2 separate regions of the Homo sapiens genome follow, and region 1 is linked to region 2. The links come from fine-mapping of genetic effects on gene expression. A gene starts in region 2. The other region holds a variant in brackets. All regions are shown on one strand. Distances are between the middles of the regions.

Evidence for each region. PIP is the estimated chance that this variant, and not a neighbour inherited with it, causes the effect. A credible set is the group of variants that fine-mapping cannot tell apart.
Region 1: its variant is the best candidate, but not a certain one, in a credible set for the expression of MESD in nucleus accumbens (GTEx, PIP 0.73).

The regions. Positions count from the first base shown.
Region 1 is chr15:80,935,426-80,940,800 of GRCh38, reverse strand. It overlaps CEMIP (cell migration inducing hyaluronidase 1), which reads right to left. Exons shown (of 30, transcript NM_001293298.2): 24 at 3,916-4,127; 25 at 2,822-3,007. Among named protein-coding and RNA genes, the nearest start is that of MESD, 52 kb to the left of the region's middle. The variant C/T (reference allele first, on the strand shown) is at 3,232.
Region 2 is chr15:80,986,978-80,992,352 of GRCh38, reverse strand. It overlaps MESD (mesoderm development LRP chaperone), which reads left to right and starts at 2,534. Exons shown (of 3, transcript NM_015154.3): 1 at 2,534-2,774. The coding sequence starts at 2,562. RefSeq lists a silencer at 2,261-2,540 and enhancers at 2,291-2,585, 2,225-2,838, 2,571-2,850, 2,839-3,453.

The DNA of each region.
Region 1 (5,375 bases), 52 kb after region 2:
GTAGGCAGGCTACCTCCTCCCTGCTGTCTTGGTTGCTGTCAGCACCTGAGCCCATGAGGCCCAGCTGGGTTTTTATTTCTTGAAGACCCCTTGGTCTTCTCTCTGTAGCACCTCCACTTAATCTGAGCTTCCTTGAGAGGCTTTATGTTTCAAGCCATCCACATCAAGTGATCTCAGAGTAAAGTAGAAACTGACTGTTACAGAGGCCTCGTGCTCAGGGCTGAGAGCAGAGCAGCCATATCTGCATTCCATGCCCTGCGTGGTGGGGAAGCTGGGGAGGCAGGTGAGCACCCGCTTTGAGCAGCTTAGGAGGAAGGCAGTTCAGTGCTGCCCATGGTCACGTCTCCCTGGAGGCTCCCAACATGCTCCAAACCACTCCTGGGACCAAGCACAGAAATGGGATTGGTCCTGAGGCTTCTGCACAAAACTTAACAGTATTCAGGTTTCCTTGTTGCCATTATATATCAGATTATCTAAACTGGGAGTGACCTAAAAGACCATCCAGCCCATGGTAGGTAGCAGCTGCCTTCCCTAATCCTGACCTACAACTTGGATGTGTGCAAGCTGGCTGAACTGCAAAGCCCTGGAAGGCATGAAAGGAGCACGGGCCTGGGCATCTGCCAGCCCAGTGCTCAAATCCTGGCTATGACCAAGTAATGTTGCAGAGCAGCGCTACTGATGGCTGTGCACCTTAAATAATGTACTTGTTTATAATTTAGTAAGAATCATTATAAGAATTCACTGAGGTGGTATTAAGCAAACTTAGCTATCCAGAACACAGCTACAATCACTTAACAGTTTTTTTAACCTGGAAAAAATGAGAGATGATTCAGAGCTTATATATTTCACACTTTGAAATCCCCTCCCTTTTAGCTGACTTATTTTAATTTTACCCCTAATTATAGCAAGCTGGTTGTTAAGTATCCTAGCCCATAGTAGATTATTAGAAGGTAGCTGCTAAAGGCAGGTGCTCTGAGTATAAGAAACAACAAACGTATAAGGCAGAAAGATTTTTAAAAGCCCAAGAGTTTGCAGCCCTTCTCCATAGGAAACAGACCCCCTATAACCCAACTCCTGGTCCCTAAGGCGTTGCTGAATTGAAACACAACACAATGATCAACAGGCATAGGGCTAAGCTATGCTACCAACCAAAAAATGTGCTTAAGGTGACAAGCAGACCAGCCTTAGATTTTTAAGACTTTGATCAAAGAGGTTCAACTTACTTAGTGGAAGTTTCCATTTGAAAAATTCACATCTTTTGAACATTTCACTCATGAGCCGGAAAGAAGAAAATCTGCATGGATGGTATCCCAGGGACTTTACCTTATCAACATCTGTTACTTTAATCATAATATTTCCTAGTGGTATGTGGGGCATATCTCACTCCTCCTCCTCTGGTATTCATATGGGAGGATTTTCCTAAATACTCCTGGCCCCTGGGCCCTCCCCTCATCCACTTCTTCCCATGGGAAGAGAGTGTCTCATATAATTGGTTGGTTTTGGGTATTTGGCTCAGCCCGTAGAGCAGGGGCACTCTGGTCTGTCTTCCATGCTCTGAGGTTTTCGGGCTGGGCCCTATGTGGGGAGCCTGTAATTGCCCAGTGCTCCCTGGGGCGGAGGAGGTAAAATTGGGGATGATATTGGAAAGCTCTATTCTCCAACAGCTTTATCATCAGTAAGGTGGATCACTTCCTCTTCCCCTGCCAGCTTGTCTGCCCCCAGCTGGCGTAGCACTTGTGTGGGGAAAGAGGTGTTTTTTATTGCCCTCCCATCCCAACATTTTACTTATACTTTTGATTCTAAATTTTAATTTTCCCTTAATCAAATTGATGGAGCCATAAATAAGATAGATCATCTGTTATCAGTTTCTTTATCATTGACTTCCATATAAGAATAGAAAACTGGCCATCAACTGATCTTTTACCCTTACTCCTCACAGTTTGCTATCGACGTTGCTGTGGAGCTGGGTTGGCATTCTTAAGACATTAGACGAAATTTCTTTTTAAGAGAGGGGATCAAAGAACTCCCAGAAACAGATACTCTGTTTTCATTATATCTCTATTGAATAGAACCTAGTGCAGGTTAGCAAAAGGGTGAGGGCTTTGAAGACAGACAGATCTAGGTTCAAATCCAGCTGGGTCAGCTTTATGCTATGATCTCAGGAAGTCTCTCCTATTTTCCCTGTGCCTTCTTTGCCCATCTCTCACTCTCTCTGTCACCCAGGCTGGAATGCAATGGCAGTATCTTGGCTCACTGCAACCTCCGCCTCCCAGGTTCAAGCAATTCTCCTGCCTCAGCCTCCTGAGTAGCTGGGATTACAGGCACGCGCCACCATGCCCAGCTAATTTTTGTATTTTTAGTAGAGACGGGGTTTCACCATGTTGGCCAGGCTGGTCTCGAACTCCTGACCTTGTGATCCACCCACCTCGGCCTCCCAAAGTGCTGGGAAGCGTGAGTCACCACACCCAGCTGCCCATCTCTTAATCCTCTGCTCCAAGCAGGTTGTTGTGAGGATTTGAGATAATGTACCATGTTTTCTGGATTCTAAGATTTACTGCCTTCACTTTTTTTTTTCTGAAATATGTAAATTCCCTACAATTCACATGTATATTTAATAGGGTGTTTATTTTACTTTTAAAGCTTAATAGCTTTAAAAATGTCGTTAATGTATGGGACAGTCAGCCTTAGAGTCAAAATGCCTAGAAAGGTGTCTTACATTAATTGGCATTAACTACATGGCTGTTCTTAGACTTATTGGAAAGGCCAAGGGGACAAGATGAGGTTGAGCCACTTTCCTGCAGCCAAGTGGGCGCCTGCTCACCCTGAGTCCTCGTCCCAGTAGTAGTGGCTCCTGCCAGGGTAGCTCTGCTCCACTTTGTCCATCTGCAAGGTCCTCACGAAGACGCCCGTCTTGGACGTTTGCTTCAGCAGGCGATTGTGAACATCCGAGAGGATGGAGAATGTGGTGCCTCGCGGGTAGCAGAGCCCCACTCGGATCCAGTCGCCCCTAGGATTGGAAGTAGAGTCAGGTTACAAGCAAGGGTGTCCAGGCCACAGGGCCTTTGGAGCATGCCTTGGAGAAAGAGACCAAAAAATCTCCACCAAATGACACCTCCACTTTTGTATGGGAAATTTTGAAAGCACATTTGCTGTCGTGGTGACTGAGTTGCAGTGTTCAAGGAGAGAGGGAGAGACAATGGCTGCCCATGAGCAAAGAGCCTGAATGCTTCA[C/T]TGGTGTGTCTCCAGGGCCAACCCTGGGGGTGCTGCATATGGAACTTTGGGAAAAAGACATTCTTTTCGTAGTTAAAGAGCACAGGATCCAAAGGACCTAGGCTGAGCCCCTTCTGGGTCCAGCTTGATTGTAGGGCCGATTTCATCGCTTTGGTCTCATTTCCCACATCTGGTAAATGTCTGTCTCACAGAAATACTGTGACAAGTAAATAATGTGCATAGAAAATACTAGAATCTAAATATATGAAGCCCTATCCAGATGCCCTCGGCCTCAACACTTTATCTCGCAGAGCCTCGTTTCCCTCTCTGTAGGATGGTAACAACAATACCCAGATATTTTTGTCATCTGTCGAGCACTGGCTAATGCCAGGTCCTGGGTGCCCGCCATACCTTATCTCCTTGGGTCCTCATTGCACTCCTGCAAGGTAATACTATCCTCAACTCAAAGATCAAGGAGCTCAGGCTCAAGAGGTTACGTGCGCTGGCCAAGGTTACCCATGCTGGAGCGGGGGCTTGGCCTGTGTCCTTTAATTCTTAACTCCTGGGTGATGTCAACCCCTCTAGGTACTCCTGCATGGATCACATGGGCTAGCCTGTGGTTTCGTTAGACGCAAGTCCAGGACTTTGCAACAAGGCATCGTTATCAGCTTTGAGCTCACTGCTCCTGGCTGGACACCCACTCACTTGTTGAAGTTGATGAGCCAGATGGCGAGTTCGGCGGGGGCCGTCTGGTCCCAGTGGATGGTGTAGCCCTTCTGCAGGGTGACAACCGGTTGGTATTGCTGGTAATGGGTGCTCCTGGTGAGCGCCCCCTCCAGGTAAAGAGGGTGGCTGGGGAAGTCATTCTTGATGATCTTCATTCGCAGGTTACTGGTCTTGTAGGCTTGAATGTACATCTTTTAAAACCCAAAAAGGAAACACACAATGAGGCTATTACGAAGGATTATTCCAAGAGCGTCTGGCTAACATCTGACTATAGACCGCACTTTCAAAGGCACTTTCTCTTTACAGAACCCTTTTTAGAAGGCTTGAATGAAAGAAAGGCCAAATAAGGGGACATCTCTTTCTGCTGATGGACGCAGCCCAGGCCTTACTGTGTAATCCAGCTAATGCTTTCTGTTCATCTTCATAAAAGTGCTCTGTTGAGCTTCCAGTGGAAATTTGAGAAGAGTCTGCATAATAGTCAGATGGCAAATTTTGGACAAAGGACAGAGATGTGGACGGAGGAGGAAGGGAGTAAGAGAGAGAGAGAGAGAACTTTTTTAATTCTACCATAAAATGCAACTCGCCTATAACTGGCAGTTGCTCTGCCTGATTTTAGAGAGTGCCTGGGTGTGTTGGCCTACTTCTCCCTCCTACTCCCTCTCAGTGTCTGGCCCCTGAGGCCAGTCCTTGTGGTGCCACAACACACTGCATGAATAAATGGTGCCTCATTTCAGAGGAAAAACTGAAAGCAAGACTGTCAGCCATTGAGTTCCAGGGACCTAAGAGCCTGGATGCTTTATCCCAGCATTGGTTTAAAACACTGTGTTGGCCGGGCGCGGTGGCTCATGCCTGTAATCCCAGCACTTTGGGAGGCCGAGGCGGGTGGATCACCTGAGGTTGGGAGTTCGAGACCAGCCTGACCAACATGGAGAAACCCTGCCTCTACTAAAAATACAAAATTAGCTGGGCATGGTGGCACATGCTTGTAATCCCAGCTACTAGGGAGGCTGAGGCAGGAGAATCGCTTGAACCTGGGAGGCGGGGGTTGCAGTGAGCCGAGATCACGCCATTGCCCATTGCACTCCAGCCTGGGCAACAAGAGCGAAACTCCATCTCAAAACAAAAACAAAAACAAAAAAAACGCCATGTCCTGTTTTATGGCACATCCCAAATTCATAAGACAATATCCCCATAACTGTGGCCAAGAGAGACAATCACACCAACGTGCAATGATGTTGTGCTTTTGGAAGGAAGTGCTTATCTTCCCCTCTAGTTTTATCGCATATAAGATGGAAAGAGAACCAACCCTGCCCATCTTAGGAAGTTGCCCTGAGTATCAGAAGGTAAAGCGTACATTAAAGCATTTTGTAAGATGTAAAGTGAAGGGAAAATATTATGAATAACCGTTAATAACCAGTTGCCAGTTATGATAATCTGGC
Region 2 (5,375 bases):
ATTAACCTAGATGGTGCTGTGGCGGAAGAAGGACTCCAAGAAGACTGGACCTTGTTATCCAGTACACCTCGGCTTAGATTCTTGCCTTGCCGCTGCACTAGCTGTGCAGCCTCAGACAAATTGTGTAATTGTAAAACCAGGATTTCCTCTTATTTAAATTGGAGAGATTATCATCATCATCACATCATCCCTTTGGGCCCGGATCTCCTGTAATCTGCATGAAATTTACTGCATATTGTTTATCTGCTCTGCCAGAGTAAGGATATTGTTATATTCATTTTTGCATCAGTGCCTCACCTGATTCTTGGTTAACAATAGGTCTTTGGTAAATAAAATTCCCCCCAAGTTGAATGGAATCAAGTTCCAAACACTAAAGTAAGTTTCAAATATCCAAATGTTGAAAATGCAATTGATCCAGATGTTTTCATATCAGTGGATTATATGCCGAATTGATTTCCTCCTTAGAGGAAAGTCAGTAGCCCTGAAACTTTCTACACATTCCCAACAATTTCTGTAAAACTTTCAATGATCTTATTCTCTATAACTAGATATGTGGGCCAAGAATCCCAACACGTTTGCCCCTTAACTTTGAAGCTGGCAATATGAATTACCAGGGTGACCCCTCCCAGTAGAGCACATGATCAGCCACAGCTGTGCATGTTTTTTAGTATGACTGCACTAGGATAGGGCTCCAAGCCACTGGGTGGAGCAATGTGCTCTGGGGAGAAAGCTCATGACATTTCCCCTATGATTTCACAAAAGAAAAAATCTTTTTCTTATGAGTTGTTTCTGCTCAACGTCAATAGGAAAGGTCATAGCTTAGCGTGTTTACATACAGATGCATGCATGAATATGTAGAATATCAGCCACTCCTACGGTGTGAGAGAATTTAAATTGCACTGGTCCTAAGAGTGAAGGAAAGCAGGCGTAGTTGCCTACTCAACCTCCACTTTATTCTTTTCCCTTTATAACAATCCTAATTTCATTTGAGATGACAATGTATACAGCTAGAAGACAATTTCTCAGCCTCCCTTGGAGAGCTAGGTTCCAGCCAATGAGATGTAAACAGAAATGTATGCAATGTTCAAGTAGGCTGCTTAAAAGAAGTTGACTCCACTTGAAAGGTGTGCTTGGTTTGGCCTGCCTTCTCCCTTCCTCTGGTTGAATGTCATCTTGATGACTGGAGCTCCAGGAGCCATCCTGGAATTTCTGACCTTGAGGGTGGAAGCCACAGGCTAATATGATAGAAGGATGAGGAAGAGGCTGAGTACCAGATGGCTGAGAAGCCACTATACCAGCCCTAGTTTCGAGTTTACACTGCTTCTGTGAAAGAAAAGTCAATCACAATAAAACCTTTTATCTTGTTTAAACCACCTTAAAAAGTCAGTTTTCTTTTATATGCAGCCTACTAATCCTATCCAAACAAGGCTTGAATAAGGTTTACTACAGCTCTTTTTTGTTGTAATAGCAGAAAAATTGGTAATAAATGCCCATCAATAGGAAAATAAACTATTAATTTAACAATACCAAATAAAACTGTGCAGCAGTATAAAGAATGAAGCGTTTTTTGTTGTTGTTTTTGAGATGCGGGTCTTGCTTTATTGCCCAGTCTGGTCTCAAACTCCTAAACTCAAATTATCGTCCTACCTCAGCCTCCCAAAGTGCTGGGATTATAAAGGCTTAAGCCACCGTGCGGCCTTTGGTTTTTTTTGTTTTTTGTTTTTTAAGGTCTTATGTAATTAAACATTTTAAAGACATCAGCTGATGAGCCGTTTAAAACAAGAAGAATCTCAAAGCATCTTTGGCCAAAATCTTTTTAAGAAACAAAAAGTAGCGTGATTCAGCCTTGAAAAGGATTAGTTAGAGCCTACAGTATTAGGTTGAAATCAAAGAAAGGCAAGCTTTTTTTTTTTTGGATGAATAGTAATGATCTTTTTGGAAAAAAAAAACAAATATTGAAAGCTGGTTGAACTGAATCCTCTTTATTGATGAGGAAAGCAGTGGACTCGAACTATTTATGACTTTCTGAAAAAAGTTGCCCTACCTGCCACTCACTTCTTTTTAACTGGCTGTTCTCAAAGGAAATTGCAAGAGACTGAGGATAAACGTCCGACATCCAGAAATGGGCTTTTTTAGAGCCGAGGCAGCCTCCAGAACTTCCAGTTCCAATTTATTTCACAGGCGAGAAACTGAGGTCAACAGGGACGTTGGTTAGTGGTTCCTGGAGGCCCTGAAGGAACTTTTGGACCTGGCTTGTGCGTTCCAGAGAAAAAGGTCGGCCTCTGACGGAAAACGAAAAATGAGCACTCAGGGACCCACCCAGCCGGGACAGAGCGCCTCAGCCGGACCAAGAGGAGGAGCCAGTGGGGCGGGGCCAAAATGGCGGAGGGGCGGGGCTTCCAGAGGCGGGGGTTAGGAAATGGTACGGGGCGGGGCCCGGTAGGCTAGCGAGGGCCGGGAGGCGGGGCCTCGGAAAGGCGGACAGGAAGGCGTGTGCAAGGCGGGGTCCGGCCCGCGCAGGTCGGGTAAGCGCGTCTAGGGCGCTGCGCGGCGCAGCGAAAATGGCGGCTTCCAGGTGGGCGCGCAAGGCCGTGGTCCTGCTTTGTGCCTCTGACCTGCTGCTGCTGCTGCTACTGCTACCACCGCCTGGGTCCTGCGCGGCCGAAGGCTCGCCCGGGACGCCCGACGAGTCTACCCCACCTCCCCGGAAGAAGAAGAAGGATATTCGCGATTACAATGATGCAGACATGGCGCGTCTTCTGGAGCAATGGGAGGTCCGCGGCGCGCGCACACCCTCCCGGCTCTTCTCTGTGCGGGACCCTGTTCCCTATGACCCCTTACCTGTTCTGTCTTGGGACCTTTCTGACCCCCTAACCTCCTCTACTCATGCCTTGAATCCTTACTGACCCACTGAAGCCACTGTTGACCCTCCATTCCTCCTCTGACCCGCGCGCCCTGCTGACCCTCGCTCCAGCCCTCTGTCATTCCAGTGCCCTGTTCCTCCTGCCATTTCTCAAACCACTTCAATCACGGATCTGCCCCTCACTGTTCAGCTTTGCTCTCCCTTCACCCTTCAGTGCCCTGGTTGTCTTTGCGTTGATTCTTGTGGTCAGTGAGCCCTGCAAACAGGGAGAGTGACCTTTCCCAATCTACTAAAGAGCATTTCCTTCTGTTTTGCGGTGAGTGGGTGGGAGAGTGGGTTGCAGTGAAGATGGTCTTCCTTAATGGTTATCTCAGCTGTCTTCTAAATCAGTATAATTTTAGACTTCCTATTTTGGTATATGTCCCTGCTGGGAATTTTGTGCTTTTTGTGGGTGGATTTATTTTACTGAGGGGAGAAGTATCAATGGCTAATGGCTCTGTATCGTGAAACTCACGCTTTTTGTTCAAAGGAGAGTAAGTTTTCTGGTTTGTCACTTGGACGCACCGGAGTGTGCAGTTACAGGGAGTGTGTAATACGCTTTAAGGTAAAGATTACTGGCCAAAACCACATTGCTGCCTTTTCCCCTTCCTAAGGTGATTGTATCGTCCTGGTTGACTTGCATAGCTGTGGAACCTTGGGCAGGTTATGTCTAGTTTCTAGGCCTCGGTTTCTTTATCTGCAACATGAGGAGGTTAGGATGGGTCCTAAGATTCCTTCCAACACTGATGTTTTGTTATTTTGTGATTATCTCTGTGTGTGTTACGGGAGAAGGGAAAGACTTTCAGACAAGAGTTTAAAATACCACCTGATGCATCTGACTAGAAGAATGCAGGCTTGTGTTTTCATGTGGTCATCAACAGCTGATGGAAAGATTGGGATAGATTTGAGTGTAGAGAGAACGTCCCCATTCACCGTCTCCCTTGCAATCTCCTTGTCTCTTTTTGGACTCCAGCAAATAAAGCCTTTTGATCTGCCAGAGTGAGAACATCACCTCATGAGAAATCCTCCCCTTGACCTACTCAGACCCTGAGCTAGACGAAGAGGGTGCTGAAGAGATGAACAAAGATTGCACTGGGAACAGTAGATAACAGGATGGATGAGTGGGGAGAGACTTTGAAGGCCAAGAAAAACACATTATCTCATTTAATCCTTTTACCCCATCCATGAGGGAGGTACTTATCCCTATTTTCTAGATGATGACATTGAGACACAAAGAGGTTAAATAACTTGCTCCACATCGCACAGCAAGCTAGCTGAGTTTCAAATTCTTTCGCGACTTTTAGAGCCAGTTCTTTGAACTGTTTTACCTGTACTGCCACACATGTTGGTGACAGAAGTGCAAATGAAGGATAGTGAGGAAGACGTGGATTAAGCTAGAAACTGCAGGAGCAGAGTAGAAGGGAGAAATGTGAGATTTTTATACTTTTAACAGGACTTGATGGTTGATTTTGTTTTTTAAATTATTTTTTATAGAGACAGGGTCTCCTTATGTTGGCTGGGCTGGTTTTGAACTCTTGGCCTTTGCAGTCCTCCCACCTTGGCTTCCCAAAGTGTTGGGATTACGGGCGTGAGCCACCATGCCTGGGCAATTGATTGATTTTGTGAATAGCAGGGCCACATAATGTAGTAAAAAGACAGGTTGGCTGGGCGCAGTGGCTCACGCCTGTAATCCCAACACTTTGGGAGGCAAAGGCGGGTGCATCACCTGAGGTCAGGAGTTCAAGACCAGCCTGGCCAACATGGTGAAACTCCATCTCTACTAAAAATAAAAAAATTAGTTGGGCATGGTGGCGGGCACCTGTAATCCCAGCTACTTGGGAGGCTGAGGCACAAGAATCGCTTGAACCAGGGAGGTGGAGGTTGCAGTGAGCCAAGATCATGCCACTGCACTCCAGCCTGGGCGACAGGGTGAGACTCTGTCTCAAAAAAAAAAAAAAAGACAGATTTTGAACTCAGCTTTACCCCTCACTAGCTACTTCATCCTAGTTTTACGTATCTGTAAAGCCAGATAACGCCCTACTTTGCAGGGTGCCATGCGGATTAAATGAGTTAATGTTTGTAGACGCTCTACAGACATGAGGACTCTTCCCCAGTAGCAGTGTTTTTTATGTGGGAGAGCGTATCCATCTCTGTGGGTGCTTTTTTTGTAGGAAGCAGTTCTTCTCCTCTTGTGACCATCTCTAAATCCATACCCTCACTCCTTCCCCAGCAGTGTGAGAAACAGTGCTTCAGTGAGAGGCTGTGCCTCAGAGGTGTGGAGAGGTGAGAATTCCTTCCATTGTGTTACAACTAATTCTGAGTCCCAATTGGTGTAGAAAAACCAAAGGTGGTTATTACATTTTACATTATGATAGCCAGGTATAATGGGAAGAGGCAGTTGGAGGGATTTGGAGCCAGAAATGTGGTTTGCACTTCTAGCATGTGAGTAAATTAAGTAAATCATTTATCCTCT